Regions from separate parts of the Homo sapiens genome. Here all the other regions are linked to region 4. Evidence: fine-mapped expression QTL. A gene starts in region 4. Each other region holds a variant in brackets. All regions are shown on one strand. Distances are between the middles of the regions.

The links. PIP is the estimated chance that this variant, and not a neighbour inherited with it, causes the effect.
Region 1: its variant is fine-mapped to the expression of ZNF623 in gastroesophageal junction (GTEx, PIP above 0.99). The same link has a PIP of 0.9 or more in monocytes after Pam3CSK4.
Region 2: its variant is fine-mapped to the expression of ZNF623 in whole blood (INTERVAL, PIP 0.98).
Region 3: its variant is fine-mapped to the expression of ZNF623 in gastroesophageal junction (GTEx, PIP 0.98).

The regions. Positions count from the first base shown.
Region 1 is chr8:143,663,411-143,668,555 of GRCh38, reverse strand. It overlaps LOC105375799 (a long non-coding RNA gene), which reads right to left. Exons shown (of 4, transcript XR_928737.3): 1 at 4,188-5,145; 2 at 2,517-2,639; 3 at 639-711; 4 at 69-337. Among named protein-coding and RNA genes, the nearest start is that of ZNF707, 18 kb to the left of the region's middle. The variant G/A (reference allele first, on the strand shown) is at 3,079.
Region 2 is chr8:143,656,444-143,661,588 of GRCh38, reverse strand. No RefSeq gene overlaps it. Among named protein-coding and RNA genes, the nearest start is that of ZNF623, 23 kb to the right of the region's middle. The variant A/G (reference allele first, on the strand shown) is at 2,581.
Region 3 is chr8:144,286,586-144,291,701 of GRCh38, reverse strand. It overlaps BOP1 (BOP1 ribosomal biogenesis factor), which reads left to right and starts at 264. Exons shown (of 16, transcript NM_015201.5): 1 at 264-430; 2 at 2,398-2,607. The coding sequence starts at 332. HSF1 (heat shock transcription factor 1) reads right to left here and starts at 98. Exons shown (of 13, transcript NM_005526.4): 1 at 1-98. RefSeq lists a silencer at 21-520. The variant A/G (reference allele first, on the strand shown) is at 2,469.
Region 4 is chr8:143,632,995-143,638,139 of GRCh38, reverse strand. It overlaps ZNF623 (zinc finger protein 623), which reads right to left and starts at 2,121. Exons shown (of 2, transcript NM_001261843.2): 1 at 1,995-2,121. LOC105375798 (a long non-coding RNA gene) reads left to right here and starts at 4,236. Exons shown (of 3, transcript NR_188083.1): 1 at 4,236-4,690.

The sequences.
Region 1 (5,145 bases), 30 kb before region 4:
ACATGTCAAGTTACTTTACCTTTCTGCATCAGGGCGCAATCAATCAGCAGACAGAAACTGCACAGTCATTTGGGCAAGGAACGTTTAATATAAAGGATTATTTACTATAATGGAATTATCTGTACAGGGCTAAAGATAATGCAAAAGAATACTCTGGGCTGACAGAGAGTTCCCAAGGAAGGAGAAAATGTGAAAGATGGCCTCCTCCCCAAGGCTGGGGCTCAAATCTTGGAAAAGGTGTGGTTGCAGAGATGCTGTTTGGTGCAGTATGGATGATGGAGAGGTTCTCTGGTTTTCCCGTAGCCAGAGCTGGTCCACAGTCAATGGGCAATCACTCCTGCAGGTGTAGAGGGGTTGAAGGTGGCAGGTAGGGAGCCTGGCCAGGACTGGCAAGCAGGAAACACCTCTCTGGGGCAGGCTGAGGCTGGATGCTGACCAGTGGAGCATCTGCAAGACTCACGGGGATCCACCCATGGCATTGCAAGTGAAGTTGGCTGGGGGTGAGCAACACTGAGTGTGCTGGCAGCCACATGGCAGGAACAAGAAGAAAACAGAAGAAAGTGCAGAACAGGAAGAGAAGCACTTTCCTCCTGCAGGGTCCCTCCAGTGCCCTCTACTTACAAAGCTTAACGTCATACCTGCTTTAAAGGAGAAACAATTTAGGGCCCAGCTCCATTTTCACCAAGCAGGCGATGAAGTATGTATTTGAAGCTGAAAGACAGTAAATGGAGAATTGGCAGTTTCAAGCCTCAGTTGGGCCCTTGGTTTTCTCAGTACTCACTCTGTGCCTCCCAACAACTAATCTTCTTTCTGATTCTCCAAGTAGCTCTTTCAACACTCCGTAAAAATCCTATCCACCATCTTTCTTCCCACTTGGAAGAAAACCTTGCCTTTTTTTTTTTTTTGACAGGGTCTCACTCTGTCATTCAGGCTGGAGAGCAGTGGTGCGATCTTGGCTCACTGCAACCTCATCCTCCTGGGCTCAAGAAATCCTCCCACCTCAGCTGCTTGAGTAGCTGAGACAACAGGTGCATGCCGCCACGTCTGGCTAATTTTTGTATTTTTTGTGGACACGAGATTTTGCCATGTTGGCCAGGCTGGTGTCAAACTCCTGGGCATCTGCCTGCCTCAGCCTTCCAAAGTGCCAGGATTATAGACCTGAGCCACCAAGCCTGGATCTTGTCTCTTATTTTACAGGGAAAATACATAATAATGTGTGTTTGATTACAATTGAATAATGCAGGCTTTGGGAAATCCACCTGTTATGGGTTGATTTGTTTCCCCCCAAATTGAAATGCTGAACCTAATGCCCGGTACCTGAGAATGTGATTGGATTTGGAGATAGGGCCTCTAAAGAGGTAGTAAAGTTAAAATGGGGCCTTTGGGTGGGCCCTAACCTGATCTGACTAGGGTCCTTCTAAGAGGAGGAAATTTGGATGCACAGAGAGACATGGGATGTGTGTTTGCACAGAGGGAGGGAGGGCCTTGCGGGGACACAGCATGGGATGTGTGTGCACATGGAGGGAGGTAGGGCCTCGAGGGGACACAGCATGGGATGTATGTGCACATGGAGGAAGGAGGGAGGGCCACGCATGGACACAGCGTGGGATGTACATGCACACGGAGGAGGGAGGGCCACGTAGGGACACAGGATGGGATATGTGTGCACATGGAGGGAAGGAAGGCCTCACGGGGACACAGGATGGGATGTGTGTGCACACGGAGGGAGGGAGGCCACGCATGGACACAGCATGGGATGTGTGTGCACACAGAGGAGGGAGGGGCACGCAGGGACACAGGATGGGATGTGTGTGCACACGGAGGGAGGGAGGCCACGCATGGACACAGCATGGGATGTGTGTGCACACAGAGGAGGGAGGCCACGCGGGGACACAGGATGGGATGTGTGTGCACACAGAGGAGGGAGGGGCACGCAGGGATACAGCATGGGATGTGTGTGCACACGGAGGAGGGAGGGGCACGCAGGGACACAGGATGGGATGTGTGTGCACACAGAGGAGGGAGGGGCACGCAGGGACACAGGATGGGATGTGTGTGCACACGGAGAGAGGGAGGCCACGCATGGACACAGCATGGGATGTGTGTGCACACAGAGGAGGGAGGGGCACGCAGGGACACAGGATGGGATGTGTGTGCACACGGAGGGAGGGAGGCCACGCAGGGATACAGCATGGGATGTGTGTGCACACGGAGGAGGGAGGGAGGCCACACAAGGACACAGCAAGAAGGCGGCCATCGGCAAGCCAAGGAGAGGAGCCTCCGGCAAAACCCAACCTGGGACACTTTAGTCTCTTCTGGCTTCCGGAACTGTGAGAGAATAATTAATTTCTGTTGTTAAGTAACCTACTCTGCAGTATTTTTAATGGCACCCTGGTGTAACTAACATACTACTGGTGTTGGAGTATTTTATAACTTGTGGAGGCCATGGAAGCATCCCCCGCGCTGTCAGGGAGGCAGAATGTCCTGTGAAAGGAACAAAATCACTTTGGACACACCTGGCAACTGGGCAAAACCTCAACTGGTTCCTTGATCAACAGAGTGAGTCTTGTAGTGGGAAAATCAAAGTGGAAGCTCCTGCAACTCTACCCTCTGTGGAGAATGGCAGGCGTTAAGGCCACCTGTGAAGACGTAAAAGATCCGCACTCGCCTTGCTCCCATCCCCCTCGTCCCCAGGCTCCTCGTCCCAGTGCCCCTAGTCCCTGTGCCCCTCGTCCCCACCCACCTTCTTCCTGTCCCTTGTCCCCACCCACCTCATCCCCATCCCCCTTGTTTCTGTCCCCCTCATCCCCGCCCACCTTATCCCCATCCCTCTCATCCCCATCCCCCTTGTCCTCATCCTTCTTGTCCCCGTCCCCTTATCCACCTTGTTCCTGTCCCCTTAATTCACATCCCCCTTTACCCTGCCCTCCTTGTCCCCATCCCCCTTATCCCTGTCCCTCTTGTCCCCACCCGCCTTGTTCCATCCCCCTCATCCCCATTCCCCTTGTCCCCATACACTCCCTTGTCCCTGTCCCTCTTGTTCTTGTCCCCCTTGTCCCCATCTGCCTGTCCCCACCC[G/A]CCTTACAATCTGGAAACCCAACCCCTGCGGAAGCTGCATGACCGTGGTGGACAGCAGTGGACTACCACAGGCTTAAACAGTAGTAGCTGAGGCACGCTTGTGGCCATCCACATGGTCTTTCCAGAAGAGACTGATGTGGCCACGTGCATGTGGTTTTTGGCTACTGGTCTGATAAACACATCATTTCCGAAACCTGTTTGGAAGGGGAATCGGAGCAGTTCCTGCCCACGCGGGGCCAACAGCGGCACACAGGTACGGTCGCTCCAGAACCGAGTGGGGTGCCTCGTCCCAACATGGCCCAAAGGCCTGACCCACTGGATGGTCCACGAGCAAAGGTTGGCCCATTCAGTGGATGCCTTAATGGGCACTGGACTCATGCAGAGATAGCAGGTGCGCTGATGGCCTCAGAAAAACACGGGCGCTGTGGAGGGCAGGAGGCAGACTCCGTACACTTCAGAGACCTGCCCCATGAGCAATGTTCTCAGGGTGCGGTGGCCTGTAGGGTGCTGGGGCAGGCCCGATGCCTCTTTGGGCTTGAAGGCAATATGTTCTGCCCTTGGCGGGGGAGAGGGAAAGCCGTCGGCTCTGAGTGGGGTCTGGAGCAAGGGAAGGGGCTGAGGCAGGCCCAGGCTGGGTGACAGGCAGTCCTGCCACGTGGGTCATGTGGCCGTGAAGTTCCCACAGGCTTCACATGTGTGGCAAAGACACGAGTGGCGCCCATGACGAGCCTCAGTGCAGGATGTGCAGCCCAGGCCCAAGGCCACCGGCGCAGGGCCCCGTCATGTTCAGGGGACTCCACCAGCTGGTAGGTGGTGCGGGCAAGTGTTCGGGCCCTGACCGTGGAGGCCACGGTGTTTATGAGACTGGCGCTGCCCATCGTGACTGGGTGCTGTCGGAGCTACCAGTCGCACATCCAAGGGGCCGTCAGGAGTTTACTGGGAGATGGAAGTGGAGTCCAAGATTGGGCTTGGGCAGGTCCAGAAGGCACAAGGATGGCCCAGGTCCCCGTGCCACCCTCTATTCTCCACTGGGCCTCTCCCCAAGCCCATGCCTGTGGCTCCATGGGGAGGTCCCCGAGCCCTGCTGCAGGAGACGGGTAGTCTCGTACCTGGCTTACGGGGGGGCCCGGTGTGCTCTGTGGCCCTCCAGTCAGAGCAGGGCTCCTGCAGCAAGGCAGTCGGTGAAATGCAGCTCCAGCCCACCTCACAGTGGCCCAGTGGGTCCCTGAACCCAAAAGGCAACACTAGAGCTCCACAGCCTAGAAGCCGCACACCGCAGCGCGCCGTCTTCACCCTTCCTTGGCTATGAGCTCTTCCAGGCAGCACAAAGCACAGGGAAATGCCCCAGGGTGACGATGTGACTGCTTGCAGCCTGCTTTCAAAAAGAACGCCAGGAACACAGGCAGGAAAGGTGGGCAGGAGAGAGAATGAGACTGATAGCCACCAGGTAGCTGACTCCAAATTAATAGGATTGTCAACTCCTTACCAATTTATATTTACCGGTTACATAAAAAATGGTACAGTGACCTCCCCTTCCAGCCATGATTAACAAGTATTGGACTTGCCCTCCTGCCCTAAACTAGAAAGCTGGACAAAATCCATGCAACAGCTGCTGTTAGATGTTGGAGGGTGCAGTGCTGTGACCTGCCCAGGAGGATGGAGATGGGGGGGGCACCTCCCATGATGCCAGCTCTCTGCCTGGTGGCATTTTCTAGAATACAGCATATGAAGGGGAAACACAGGCATGGTATCAACTCACTAAGTTGAGGAGGCAGAGGTTGGACTCTGGGGAGGTACAGAAGGCTCGCATTTATGGGGTCCAGTACGAGAAAGAAACTGGGACCCATGAAGAGGAAGTCCCCAGTGCTGCCATGAGTGTTTGGATGAACGTTAAGCTGCACACACCATGGGGCCAGGCCACAAGCCACGGGGAGCTGACAGCAGACAATCCCCAAATAGCTTGCAGGCCTGGGAGGTGCTCAAAGTGTGATGAGCCAGAGTGGTGGGCCTTGCTGCCCAGTGGCGGCACTCAGTGAGAACTGCGAAGGGTCCAGCCCTACCAGGAGC
Region 2 (5,145 bases), 23 kb before region 4:
CCCACAGTGCCCCGAAGGCAAGTGAAGAAGGAGCAGGAAGGCACCAGCAAACAGGGCCACAGCGCCCCGAAGGCGAGTGAAGGAGCAGGAAGGCACCAGCAAACAGGGCCACAGCGCCCCGAAGGCGAGTGAAGGAGCAGGAAGGCACCAGCAAACAGGGCCACAGTGCCCCGAGGGCAACAGGAAGCAAATTTCACCTAAAATTGCAATTCCTGGCTAGGAGGGATGGCTCACGCCTGTCATCCCAGCACTTGGGGAGGCCGAGTTGCGTGGATCACCTGAGGTCAGAAGTTTGAGACCAGCCTGGCCAACATGGTGAAACCCCATCTCTACTAAAAATACAAAAATTAGCCGGGCGTAGTGGTGGACACCTGTAGTCCCAGTTATTCGGGAGGCTGAGACAGGAGAATTGCTTGTATCTGGAAAGTGGAGGTTGCAGTGAGCAGAGATCATGAGACTACACTATAGCATGGGCAACAGAGTGAGACTCTGTCTCAAAAAATAATAATGAAAACAAAAATAAATAAATAAAATTAGAATTCCTCTTGGTGTGGGAGGGTGGCAGAAAAACATTGTAAGAAACTGTGGGCTGGGTGCGGTGGCTCACGCCTGTCATCCCAGCACTTTGGGAGGCCGAGGCGGGTGGATCACCCGAGGTCAGGAGTTCAAGACCAGCCTGGCCAACATGGCAAGACCCTGTCTCTACTAAAAATACAAAAAAATTAGCTGGGTGTGGTGGCAGGCGCCTGTAATCCCAGCTACTCGGGAGGCTGAGGCAGGAGAATTGCTTGAACCTGGGAGGCAAAGGTTGCGGTGAACCGAGATCGTGCCATTGCACTCCAGCCTGGGCAACAAGAGTGAAACTCCGTCTCAAAAAAAAAAAAAATAGAAACTGTGATGGAAAAGATTCCAAATAAAACGAAAATAATAGAGCTACAAATCCAAGATCAATAACCCCCAAGAAGGATAAAAACAAAGAAAGCCACACCAAGGCACATCATAATCAAACAGCTACAAGCCAGTGATAAAGAGAAAATCTTACAAGCACTCAGAGGCAAAGTAAATTACATATTATATATCCAGCAACATCCTTCAAAAATGAAGGCGAAATCAAAATATTTTCCAAAGATAAAAGTTGAAAGAACTTGGCCGAGCATGGTGGCTCACACCTGTAATCCCAGTAGTCTGGGAGGAGGCCAAGGCGGGAGGATTGCTTGAGCCTAGGAGTTCCAGACCCGCCTGGGCAACATAACGAGACCCTTTTTTTTTTTTTTTTGGAAAAAAAAAAAGAGCCAGGCATGGTGGCTCATGTCCATGTCATCCCAGCACTTTGGGAGGCTGAGGGGGGCAGATCACCTGAGGTCAGGAGTTTGAGACCAGCCTGGCCGTCATGTTGAAACCCCATCTCTATTAAAAATACAAAAAATTAGCCGTGCATTGTGGTGGGCACCTGTAATCCCAGCTACTCGGGAGGCTGAGGCAGGAGACTCACTTGAACTGGGAGGCGGAGGCTGCAGTGAGCCAAGACCACGTCATTGCACTCCAGCCTGGGCAACAAGAGTGAAACTCCATCTCAAAAAAAAAGGAAAGAAATTTAATCTCCAGTCTCCAATGTGGCAGTACTGAGAGGTAAGGCCTTTAAGGGGGTGACTGAATCACCAGGGCTCTGCTCTCATTTGTGGATTAATAGATCAATGGGTTACCAGGGAGGGGATCTGAAGGCTTTGTAAGAAGAGGAAGAGACCTGAGCTATCCCGTAAGTATGCTCAGCGCCTCACCATTGATGTCCCGCACCATCTCTGGACTTTGCAGAGTCCCCACTAGCAAGAAGACTCTCACCAGATGCGGCCCCTTGACCTTGGACTTCTCTGCCTCCATAGCTGTAAGAAATAAAATCTTTTCTTTTATAAATTACCCAGTTTCAGGCCAGGTATGGTGTCGCACACCTGTAGTCCCAGCTACTCGGGAGGCTGAGGCAGGAAGATCACTTGAGCCCAGAGGTTTGAGGTTGCAGTGAGCTATTGTGGCATCATTACCCTCTAGCCTGGGTAACAGAGTGAGATTCTGTCAGACAAACATAAATAATCCAGTTGCAGGGATTCTGTTGTAGGCAACAGAAAATGGACTAAGACAGAAAATTGGTACTGAGAGTGAGGTGCTGCTAATAAAAAATAACCAAAAATGTAGAAGCAGCTTTGAAACTGAGTAATGGGCAGAAGCTGCAAGAATTTGGGGGAGCAGGCTAGAAAAGGCCTAGATTCTGGTGAGGGCTTAGAAGACAAGACTAGGGAAAGACTGGACCTCTTTAGAGATCCATTAAGTGGTCACAACCAGAACGCAGATAGAAGTATGAACTATAAAGGCCATTCTGATGAAGTTTCAGATGGAACGGAGGCACAAAGTGTTGGACAGTGAAGTAAAGGTCATCCTTAATATAAATTGGCAACGAGCTTCGCTGAATTGTGTCCATGCCTCGGGCTTTGAGGAAGGTCAAACTTAAGAGTGATGAACTAGGATATCTGGAAGAAAAAAAGAGGAGCTGCTGGTGGCCGGGCGTGGTGGCTCACACCTGTAATCCCA[A/G]CACTTTGGGAGGCCAAGGCAGGCGGATCACCTGAGGTCGGGAGTTCGAGACCAGCCTGGCCAATGTGGAGAAACCCCATCTCTACTAAAAATACAAAATAAGCTGGGTGTGGCGGCACATGCCTGTAATCCCAGCTACTCGGGAGGCTGAGGCAGGAGAATCGCTTGAACCCGGGAGGCAGAGCCTGCGGTGAGCCGAGATCACACCATTGAACTCCAGCCTAGGCAACAACAGCAAAACTTCATCTTAAAAAAAAAAAAAAAAAAAAAAAGAAGGAGCTGCTGGTTACTTTTGGCCTCTTATGCTGAGCTTTGAGAGTAAAGGAATAGTTTAAAAACAGAATTTATAAATTAAAAGGAAGCAGAGTGGAAAGATTTGGAAAACTCAGCCTGGCCATGTAGAGTAAAAGTATGTTCAGCAGAGGAAACCAAGGGTATAGCCCAGTGAAGTTTGTGAAAGAAATTAGCTTGGGTAGAAGGGAGCCAGGTGCAATTCTCCCAAGACAATGAAACTAAGTCCCAGCAGGCATTTCAGATTATCGAGGCTGCCTCTCCCATCAGAGGCTCAGAGGCCTAGGAAGGCAGAATGTTTTCGGGGGACAGACCCCAGGAGCCCTCCACAAGCTCACCCAGGGCCACCTTAGGACTCTGCTCTGGGCACCACAGCCGTTGTTCAAGTAGCCCCAGATGTGAATGCCTCACTCCAGAACACACAAGCCCTAAACCTTGGTGGCATCCATGTGGTGCTAGTTCTGCTGGCTTAGGGAAAGCCAGAGCTGTGAAGGCTTGGCAGCCTCCATCCAGATTGCACAGGATACCACTGAAAGCTGAGGGGCCAGGCAGAGACTTGTAGCAGGGGTGGAGGCACTACAGAGAACCCCCACTAAAGCAATGCTGAGTGGAAATGAGTTGGAGGTGCTGGAGAGTCCCCACCAGGGTAATGTCTAGCGAGCCATGGGAGTGGGACCACCACTGGGACCCAAGAACCGTGGAGTCACTGGCAGCATGCATGCTTGCCTGGAAAAGCTTCAGGCACCAGACTCTAACCCATAGGAGGTAGAGCAAAGCCATAGAGTGGGGGTGCCTGAGGCCTTGGGGACCCAACCCTCGCCCTGGGGTGTCCAGGAAGTGGCACATGGAGTCAAGAGATGATTCTCCAACTTCAGGATTTAATGCCTTCCCTGCAGGGTTTTGGACTTGCTTGGGACCTGCTAACCCTTTCTTATTGCTTACCCCTCCCTGATGGAGTGGGAATGTCTGCCTTTTGCCTGTCACCATCATTGTATCTCGGAAGTAGATAACTTATTTGATTTCACAGGCTCACAGATGAGACTCTGGACTCTGGACTTTTGATTCAGTGCTGGAATAAAATCTGGGGACTATGGGATTGCAACAAATCTGTTTGAGAAGGACATGAGTTTTGGACAGAATGCTGAGTATCTGCCCCTCCAAAACTCATGTAGAAATTTCATCCCCAATATGGCAGTACTGAGAGGTGGCGTCTAAGACGTGATTGGATCATGAGGGTGAAGCTCTCAGATGAATTAATCTACTCTGGCTGGGCGCGGTGGCTCATGCCTGTAATCCCAGCACTTTGGGAGGCCGAGGCAGGCGAATCATGAAGTCAAGGGTTTGAGACCAGCCTGGTCAACATGGTGAAACACCCGTCTCTACTAAAAATAGAAAAAATTAGTTTGGCATAATGGTGGGTGCCTGTAATCCCAGCTACTCAGGAGGCTGAGGCAGGAGAATTGCTTGAACCCAGGAATCAGAGGTTGCAGCGAGCTGAGATCTCACCACTGCGCTCCAGCTCGGGCGACAGAGTGAGCCACTGCGCCCTGCCAGAGGAGATCCTTTTAAATATAATTAAAATAGAATGTCGAATAAAATGTAGTGGAATGTTTTGAACTTTATGCCAATAATTCACTGTTTTACATGAAATGAATAATTCTTTGAGAGATAAAAGTTACCAAACTTGGCACAAGAAGAAATAGAAAAACCTGAACTGTTACAGCTGTTTAAAAAAATTGAATTTATGGCTGGGCACAGTAGCTCACTCCTGTAATCCCAACATTTTGGGAGGTCAAGGTGGGCAGATCACGAGGCCAGGAGTTCAAGACCAGCCTGTGCAACATGGTGAAACCCTGTCTCTACTAAAAATACAAACACCTGGGCATGGTGGCACGCACCTGTAGTTCCAGCTACTCGGGATGCTGAGGTGGGAGAATCGCTTAAACCTGGGAGACAGAGGTTGCAGTGAGCCGAGACCATGCCACTGCACTCCAGCCTGGGTGACGGAGTGAGACTGGGTCTCAGAAAAAAAAAAGGAAAGAAAAGAAAAGAAAAAAGAGAGAGAGAAAGAGAGAGGGAGGGAAGGAAGGAAAGAAGGGAAGAAAACATTTAAGGAAGAAATAATAGTATCAATATTACATAAACAACTTCAGAAAACAGAAGAGGATAGAATAATTCGCAATTCTTTGGGAGTAACAGTATCCTGATATCAATACAAGGACATACTCTTACCAATTCTAAGGAAAACGGAACAAGATGCCCTAGTCAGTACAA
Region 3 (5,116 bases), 650 kb before region 4:
GGCTAACGCCGTCGCCGCGCCAGCCTTCCGGGCCGCGCCGCCGCCCGCTGCGCACACACAGCCCCGGGGCCCAGCATGGCCGCCGCCATCTTGCAACGGGCGCGCTCCCGCCGCCGCCGCTGCCGCCCTCCCGCGTCACCCCCGGCGCGAGCACGCAGGCCCCGACCCCGCCCTGGTCCCCGGCCCAGCCGCGCGCCTGCGCGTGTTGGTCCCACCCCCTTCCCTCCACCCGCCAATCGGGGCCGGGCTGGGCGGGGCGCGTCCTCCTGCGCACGCGGCCCGGTCGCTGTCGGAAGCGGCTGTGCGGGTGGCGGCCGGCGCGCGGTGGGGCATGGCGGGTTCGCGGGGTGCGGGGCGCACGGCGGCGCCGAGCGTGCGGCCGGAGAAGCGGCGGTCTGAGCCCGAACTGGAGCCTGAGCCCGAGCCGGAGGTGACTGTGGCGATGCGGGGCGGCGGGGCGCGTCCCTAGAGGGCCCGGCGGGCACGTGGCCGCGCTGGGGCGGGTGGGCCCGGCTTCTGTCACCTGGGCGCCCGCGCCCAGTGAATCGGTCTTGGGCGTGGGTGCAGCTCCTCTATCGGGGGGTCTCAGGCAGAGCGGACTGCGGGGTAAAGGACGGCGTCCGGGAAGCAAAGAAACGGGGGAGCGGGGAGTGGGGACGGGGCGCCCCTTGCAGCAGCCTCTCCAGCCGTTCCATTTGTGCATCCTGCCAATAAAAGGGCTCGGCTTGCGCTCCCAGTAAATGCTTAACCTACGTATACGCTAGTTAATTGCGTTTTTATGCTCATGGGATAGACATGAGAATAAGAAAACCTGAATAGAACCCAGTGTCTGCTGCATTTGCTGTATTAGAACTCACTGTTGCTCTCTGCTAGCTCAGCCCTGTCTTGGTTGTGGGGATCATCAAATTGGGTGGTGGAGGGGATGGACAGCCAGCCCCTCACAGCCCCCTCGGCCGCGGCCGCGCTGGGTTGTTGAAACTGCCCCATTGCTTTGTGAAGCGAATTCAACTCATCCTGGCTCCCATGGGCTGAATGGCCCGCAGGCCACTCTAGGCGCCAGGTTCTGCGACTTCCACCCTTGGACTAAACGGTCCTCAGGAGCCAGTTGTTTGCGCCCAGGCCACGGATGCCATTTCCACTAGTTATTGTGATTGTGTAGCCGACTGAATACCAAGACACATCATGACTCTGTGTGAGAGAGGCATTGTGTGAACACTCGGTATGCAATAGCTAATACATGCAGGTCGTACCTTAAGTGAGACTTGTAAACTATTAGGAAAACAGTAAAATCTAGAATTCTGCATTCAACTGCTTCCTTTTTCTTTTCTTTTCCTTTTCTTTCTTTTTTCTTTTTTTTTTTTTTGAGACAGAGCCTGGCTCTGTTGCCCAGGCTAGAGTGCAGTGGTGCAGTCTTGGCTCACTGCAGCTTCCACCTCCTGGCTAACTCAGCCTCCTGAGTAGCTGGGATTAGAGGTGCCCGCCACCACCAGCTAATTTTTGTATTTTTAGTAGAGATGGTTTCACCATGTTGGCCAGGCTGGTCTTGAACTCCTGACCTCAGGTGATCCACCCGCCTCAGCCTCCCAAAGTGTTGGGATTACAGGAGTGAGCCACTGTGCCTGGCCTTCAACTGCTTCCTAAGAGTCTAAGTTCTTGTTCCACCCTTTAAGGCCAGTGAAGGACCCGAACACTGTGTGTGCCGGTGTCACGCAGCCAGCAGGGCTCTGCTCAGAGGCAGCTGTGGTCCTGCTCAGAGAGAGGAGTGGGTGGGTTGGTGCGTGGTTGCGGTTAGAGTCTCTATCATTCCTGTGACTCTTCAGCCAATCCTTTCAATTTACTGATCAATCGTTGGTCCCAATCTGGTTAAATGAGGAGGCGTCTGCTTCAGGTGGTAAAAGCCCTTTGGGGACCCATTTCTCTTCCAGCCCCCAGCCCCTTTTCTAGTGACCTCTTGGCTCTGGGGCCTTGGATGCCAGGGTGAGGTGTGGAGAGGGCTCAGGCAGGCTGTCTGAGGGACCCAGTGGAGTCCAGCCCAGCCTGACCCCACAGGGCCTCCGGAGTGTCAGTGGGTGGTAGAGAGCAGTGTTAGTTTTGCGATGAGAGCTGAGCTCCAAGAGGAGGAGGTTGTCCTTGAAAAGCCCCTTCCCTGTGAGGTGCTAGGAATTAAAATGTCGATGGCAAAGGCAAGAGGCTGTCTTGTCAGTGGAGGTAGAAGATGAGGAAGGCTCAGGTTGGGTGGATGCTTTTGGTGGAAGTTTGTGACTGGAGGGGTGTGGTCCTGGAGGCCACATGGAGCTGCTGGTGGGTGGCTGGAGGGGCGAGAGGCAGCTCTCCCTGCAGTGTTCAGTGCCCCATGCCTGGAGGGGCAGTTGTCACCAACCCAGTGTTTCCTTGCAGCCCCCCCTCCTCTGCACCTCTCCTCTCAGCCACAGCACCGGCAGCGATTCTGGCGTCTCCGACAGCGAGGA[A/G]AGTGTGTTCTCAGGCCTGGAAGATTCCGGCAGTGACAGCAGTGAGGATGATGACGAAGGCGACGAGGAGGGAGAGGACGGAGCCCTTGATGACGAGGGCCACAGTGGGATTAAAAAGACCACTGAGGAGCAGGTGCAGGTGGGTGAGCGAGGAGCCCCCTCGAGGGCTGTCCCCCATGTGCAGGTGGCCTTGGGCTTTCTGAGACTGCCACTGTACTGCCTTCTCCACCGTCCCTCAGAACCCCAAGGCCGGCGTCCCTCCTTCACTGCACCTGGGGCACGCTTGGGCTCTAGGACGCTGGTTTCCATCCCCAGTTGCGTGCCGTTCCCAGGAACTCTGAAAATCCACATGCCTAGGCCCTTCCCCGTCAGACGATGCTCGGGCAACCCTCCTGGCAACAGGTTGGGTTTCCTTGAGGTGGGGATTTTACTGCTTGGAATCCAGTGGCAGGACCCAGCTGAGGAGGGAGCTGAGCAGCATGGCAGGGCTCAAGCAGGCGGCATGGGGGCCCCAACGGAACCCAGCTGGGCCTGACCCCACAGGGCTTCAGGGGCCTGAGCAGCCGACGGGTAGAGGGTTTAACATTGTACCTGTTGCAGCGATGGTGGGGGAGGATGCACCCTACTCTTATTGAGAACAACAGGAGAAAAGCATAATTTAACTAAAACACAGCATTTGTTATTTTTTTTTATTTTTTATTTTTTTGAGACAGAGTCTCACTCTGTCGCCCAGGCTGGAGTGCAGTGGTGTGATCTTGGCTCACTGCAACCTCCATCCCCTGGGTTCAAGTAATTCTCCTGCCTCAGCCTCTCTAGTAGCTGGGATTACAGGTACATGCCATCACGCCCGGCTAATTTTTGTACTTTTAGTAGAGACAGGGTTTTGCCGTGTTGGCCAGGCTGGTCTCGATTTCCTGACCTCAGGTGAGCCACCACGCCCGGCCTATTTTTTTTTTTTTTTTCTAAGACAGAGTCTTGCTCTGTTGCCCAGGCTGGAGTGCAGTGGGGCGATCTTGGCTCACTGCATCTTCCACCTCCTGGGTTCAAACAATTCTCCTGTCTCAGCCTCCTGAGTAGCTGGGATTACAGGTGCCCACTACCAGGCTCGGCTAATTTTTTTTTGTATGTTTAGTAGTGACGGGGTTTCACCATGTTGGCCAGGCTGGTCTCGAACTCCTGACCTCAAGTGATCTGCCTGCCTTGGCCTCCCAAAGTGCTGGGATTACAGGTGTGAGCCACCGCGCCCAGCCCAGCATTTGTTACTCTAAACATTCTGGAAATCGTTTGTAAGGATTTACTCTCCCAGTAGTTTCGGTGTTCTGGAAGTTACGGCCTTGGCAGAGGTCCCCGTGATAGAAGCCAAGGAACCATGGCTTGTTCATTGTGTGCTAGCTGTGTTGGGTTGGCTTGTTTGCTGGGAAGAAAAGATTTAAAATCACACTTAATTCAGGCTTTAATTATACCACTAACATACACAGAGAAAAAATGATGTGCTGTGTTGGCAGTGGTTTGTAAGATTATGGACAACTACGTTACCCCTTCTTGAGTTTTTAAAATGATACAATACTGGGCCAGGCACAGTGGCTCATACCTGTAATCCCAGCAGCTCGAGAGGCCAAAGTGGGAGGATCTCCTGAGCCCAGGAATCCAGGTCACAGTGAGCTATGATAGAGCCACTGCACTCCAGCCTGGGTGACAAGCAAGACCCTGTTTCAAAAAAAAATTATGAGATAAAACATCCTGGAAAATAATGTAGATATTGTAGCAGCACCATTCAGTAGGGTGGAAGCTCCCACTCAGGGCCCTCACACCTAACCCGTGAGCACAGTTAGTGGTCTGGTGTACATCTTTCTGGGTCTTCTGTCCCTTTTTAAATTAAGGATTTACACATTTACATGTTAATGATTTTTTTATTAAATTCTTTCAGCGGGCGTGGTGGCTCACGCCTGTAATCCCAGCACTTTGGGAGGCTAAGGTGGATGGATCACCTGAGCTCAGGAGTTCAAGACCAGCCTGGCTAACATGGTGAAACCCTGTCTCTACTAAAAATATAAAAATTAGCTGGGCGTGGTGGCGCGTGCCTGTAATCCCAGCTACTCGGGAGGCTGAGGCGTTAGAATCACTTGAACCTGGGAGGCGGAGGTTGCAGTGAGCCGAGATCTCACCACTGCACTCCAGTCTGGGTGACAGAGTGAGGCTCTGCCTCAAAAACCAAAACAATGTTTTCGCATAATAACATATCCAAGTACTTGAAAGGTACTAGAGGTGTCTGCGGAGTCTAGGGAGGCGCCATCTTCTCTTCTCGCTGCTTGTCTCCTGGCCCCTGGAGCACCAGGTCCTCTGCACTGCTGAGTGTGTGCTTGTCCTGCCCATTGCCCTGCTCGGGTTTCTGTGACCGCGTAACTGGCTGCCCCATGCAGGGTGTTTTCCAAAGTACCGCTGTCTGTGGTCTGTGTGCTCCGTCATCCAGCAGGGCCTGAGGTGGCAAGGCCGGCCGGGCTGGTGGGGCGGTCCTCAGAGTTCCCCACGCTGCTGGCTGCCCAAGTCCCTGCCTGAGGCCCTGCCCTGTTGTGGCGCTCATGCACCTGCCCGCGTGTCCTGTGCTTTAGCTGAGGGGCCGAGGCCCTGCCCTGCCATGGCGCCCGTGC
Region 4 (5,145 bases):
CGAACTCTTGACCTCATGATCTGCCCGCCTCTAGAGAAAGTTTTTAAAATTGCAAATATCTTGCTTTGAAGAAACAGTTATCTCAAAAAGGAAATAGCTATCTTCAGTTTTTGCTTAACTTTTTCTTGTATGAATTTAAGTAAAATTAAATCAATACATTTTCATTTAAAGAAACTGACATGAAATGCAAAAAAAAGGAAGCCACCTGACTTGTGGCTCCACACAACAAACTGACTAGCATGGACCCATCTCCTGTTGTAACACAGAATTTGCTGGATAAAACATCACCTGAGGCCAGGCGCGGTGGCTCACGCCTGTAATCCCAGCAGTTTGGGAAGCCGAGGTGGGCAGATCACAAGGTCAGGAGTTCAAGACCAGCCTGACCAATATGGTGAAACCTCGTCTCTACTAAAAATACAAAAATTAGCCGGACGTGGTGCCGTGTGCCTGTAGTCCCAGCAACTCAGGAGGCTAAGGCAGAAGAATCACTTGAATCCGGGAGGCAGGGGGTGCAGTGAGCCGAGATCATGCCACTGCACTCCAGCCTGGGCGACAGAGCAAGACTCCGTCTCAAAAATAAATAAATAAATAAATAAATAAATATCACTTGAAATTGTCTCAACAGCAGATGTTGTGTATCATCAGCAGCCACAGCAGCTCTGGGGTGTCTAGGGGTGTCCCATCTGGCATTAGAAGCCCCCAGCTCTTGCACCCACACTGGTAAGGGGAAATTCCAGCCTCAAGCTCCCAGCCAGAGTCACTGTGTGTTGCTTACAGCCTGAAGAAATTAACAGGATACACCAAGCTTCACCCTCAGGAAACAGGAAAAGCAGAACCAGAGGGCAACCGAGTGAGACGTGGACTAGAGCTCCACTAACATCTGGACCTCCTTGCCCCGCGCCACACCAAGGGGCCTACTGGGCGCCACAGGCTAGGCAGGGAGCGCTTCTGTTCCTAGTGCTCCCCACGATGCCCCGGAAGTTCAGGGAGGTAAGAAGCGTAAGGTCAGAGAACTGGAGCCAGCTGTCAACTGCCCCCGCCCCACCCAGGCCATTTGGCTTCTGCTACCGGCATGCTGCTCAGGGCTCTGCCCAAGGACAACGACGAGCCCCCTGTGTCCTCTCCTGGGTCATCTTCCATGACCCTGAGGCAGCGAAGACAAGCTCGGCAGCTCCCTGAGCTGCTTCACACCAACTACCTATGAGTCTGAGGCCAGCATCCAGGCGCTGCCCAGACCCTGAGAGTCCCTGGACCATGACGTAGCCTGTGTGTGAAGGGAGCAAGACAGCCTTGACAGAAGCACAGAGAACGCCACTGGGATTCTTAAAGACGCGAAGGGAAAAGGGTACCTTCAAGAAAAAGCAGGACAGCGTAGCCACACCACCTCTCCCCATCTGGGAATTCTCCAGGTCCAAGTCTTGTACTTAATTCTAATTCTGCTCATCATGTTTCCCTCCCCACCCCTATCCCCAACAGCACAGAAGATGCTGGCGCTGCATCTCCTCCAGCACCGAGAGGCCTCGAGGCCCCAGGGAGCGGAGGCAGGGTTCAGGCACAGCCGCGGGAACGCCCACACCCAGTCCTGCCACACCGTAAAACATGTCTGCGGCATCAACCTCACGCAGGCCTGGCGGACCTGAAGACTGCGACACGGACACTCAAGCCCGCGGCTCTCCGGCCTGGGCTCAGGGCGGGGGGAAGGAGAGGGAACCAGGGGTACCCACACGGCGCTCCTCAGGGACAAGACCCCAGGCTCGGGCCCGAGGCGGGCTCGCTGGAGAGACGCCGCAGCCTCGCGGGGGCGGCCGTGGCTGCGTCCGGGAGACTGACTAGCCAAGGCCCCGCTCCTGGACGCCCTAGCGGGGCGGGCAGCGGCCTGCGGACCCCGCCCGGCCCTCTCGGCGGACTGTGCCCTGGCAAGGCGGCCGGGCTCCGGAGCCAGCCGGGGCTGCGGCTAAGGCGTTGCCCGCCCCCGTCCGGAACGCGCCACTCACCCGGCGCGGGCGGGGAGAGGACGGCGCGAGCCCGACCCTGCAGCCGCTGACTGGACCCCGCCGGCGCGGGCCCCACAGATCAGCCGACAAAGCCTGCACCGCCGCCAGCCCGCCGCGACCGGAAGTCGCGAGAGGCCCCGCCTGGGAAACTTCCTGCGCCGTTCTAGGAGCGCCAGGGATCGGCTCCCCTCTCAGTGGTGCGGACTTCCGGGCCCGGGGACTAAGACCCCCGGAGGGGCCAGGGGTGTCCGGCAGGAGCGGCGTTGCTACGCGGTTGGGAGGGTTGCGGGCCGGGAAGCGCGGGCTCGGAAACTCGGGTCTGGAGCTCGCGGCGAGGTCCGACCGCAGCCCAAGACCAGCTTCTCAGGAGGCGAGGATCCAGGGGAAGTAAATACCGTGAGGGCCAAACTTCACCTCTCTGCGCCCCAGAGAAGTGGGGAAGCGGCGCGCTGTGGAGTTTTTTGGTTTTCGGGTTTTGGTTTTTTTAAGACAGGGTCTCGCTCTGTCGCCCAGGCTGCAGTGCAGTGGCGCGATCTCGGCTCACTGCAGCCCCGACCTCCCGGGCTCAGGTGGTCCTCCCATCTCGGCCTCCCAAAGTGCTGGGACCAGAGGCGCGCGCCACCGCGCCGGCTCATTGATTCTTGGTAGACATTACTCATTGCTAGAATGAGTCACAGTCCGAAATAATCGAAATAATTACATTCCCCTGCCCCCCCCCCCCACCAAAAAAACATTATATTCGTATTTTGGGTTTTCTTTTTCCATTTTTCTGCTAGCACTGAGGAAACTTGTTTACCTAAATTGTTAGATAGGATTGGGAGGAATTTTGTTTTAGCAATGACGCTCAATTTATTTTTATTTTTATTTTTTGAGATGGACTCTCGCTCTGTCACCAGGCTGGAGTGCTGGAATGCAGTGGCGTGATCTCTGCTCACTGCAACCTATGGCTCCCTGATTCAAGCGATTCTCCTGCCTCGGCCTCTGGAGTAGCTGGGATTACAGGCATGCGCCACCACGCACAGCTAATTTTTGTATTTTTAGTAGAGACAGAGTTTCACCTTGTTGGCCAGGATGGTCTTGATCTCCTGACCTCGTGATCCACCCGCCTTGGCCTCCCAAAGTGCTGGGATTACAGGCGTGAACCGCTGTTCCCAGCCGACGCTCAATTTCTTTAGCTCTTTCTGACTTATATGCAAAAAACATAACAGCAGTTTATCACCAAGTGTACTTAATGACCTGTCAGTTGACCACTTGAATAGGTCCTTTTTAAATTTTGACAGAAGCAAACAAAGAATTAGAAGTAACCTAAAGTGCAAAACTACATGAAGTCTTTCCCAGCCAATAAATTCACCTACTTTCTTAAAATCAACTGCAGAGTTTTGAATTGTCCCTTTGATGAGGAGGACAGCCCAGGTACCAAGGCCAGGTACCAGGGTGAATAAAGGAAGAGAAGCAACGTGGGAGAAGGAGCTGTGGCCAAGGGGGACACGCTAGGCGCGTGCCCTCATCCAAGGACCTTCTACAGGAATTCCAGGGCAGAATCCATGTGGAACTCCTGCTGTGATTCTCCAGGGGCTCCCCGGCTCTTGGAAAGGCTTCTGTGTTCCAGGGGTGTGTGTGAAAGCCCTACATTGAGCGACCCCACCTCTCATCCAGGCCCGGAGACCTTGGCTGCTGCAACCCTATTGCCAGCTTACCATGGGACCCAGCTCTTAAGGCGAGAAGGGCTTGAGGCCTCTTCCCCACAGGGCTTACAGACCTTTCAGCCTCCCTGTCCGCAGGCCCAAAGAGCTTGAGAACACCGCCTGAGCAGGTTGTCACAGATCAAAATCTGCCTTGTACACCTGACGCCTGCCACTTCAACCCCACCAACAGCTAACACATGGCTGCAGCTTGGCACTTAATACTTTTTTTTTTTTTTTTTTTTTGAGACAGAGTCTCTCTCTGTCACCCAGGCTGGAGTGCAGTGGCGCGATCTCGGCTCACTGCAAGCTCTGCCTCCCGGGTTTATGCCATTCTCCTGCCTCAGCCTCCCGAGTAGCTGGGACTACAGGCACCCGCCACCACGCCCGGCTAATTTTTTGTTTTTTAGTGGAGACAGGGTTTCACCATGTTAGCCAGGATGTTCTCGATCTCCTGACCTCGTGATCCACCCGCCTCGGCCTTCCAAAGTGCTGGGATTACAGGCCTGAGCCACCATGCCCGGCTGGCACTTAATACTTTGAGTTTACTTGTTTGGTACTGATTGTCCCTGCCAGTAGAAAGGAAGCTCCGTAAGGTCAGGGACCCCCGTCTCGTTCCATGTCTAGCCCAGTGCCTGGCCCATGTGGACCTCAGCAACTGTGGTGGATGCTGCGATGAGAGGCCCCGGGAGACCCCTCCAGTGACAGGCTGGGTGTCCCAGTTGTTCAGGGTGTGGTAAGCGGCCTTCAGCCATCAGCTGCAACTCGCCAGGGTCACACCCTTCCCTGGGACAGCCCACATTGCAAAGTCCTGGACATCCTGGTCCAACCGAGGACAGCCCTGAGGACCACTTCTGTGGCAGAGCTCCCTGTGGGGGACCAGTAGCCGCTGTGCTTGATGGCATCACAGCCCCACTCCTGCCTCTTGTGTCTTCCCCTCCACAGGTCCAACATCACTCCGTGAAAGTCTGCTCCCCACCTAGGAGCCCCCTCGAGCCACAGCAGCCTTGCCAGGTGACTTCTAATATTATCTCCATTTTATAGATGAGGAAACAGAAATAGGGAAACCAAATGGCTCACCTAAGGTATCAGCCAGGACATGCTGGAGGAGGCCTCAGATGTAGCCATCTGCCTCCAAAGCCCTTGACCTAGAGCAAGTACAATGCCAAAACCAAGGAGTGTGGCTGGAAGGCAAAAGGCCCGAGGGGAGGCTGCCATGCAAGATGAGGCTGGCGCTGTTGCCATAACCAGAGCTCAAGAAAGGAAAGCTGTCCAAAGAAACTGCATTCAGCCAGAAAGGGAATTTATAGGGATTTGAGGGGACGGAGCCATTCTGAAGACAAAGCAGAAATTCTGATAAAAGATCCCAAAACATAGTTTCAAGCTATCTGGGATGTGGGGTTTAGGAAAACAGGCCATGGGTGGTCTTGGTACGGGAGCAAGCACAAAACTGTCTGGGAAATGTCCCT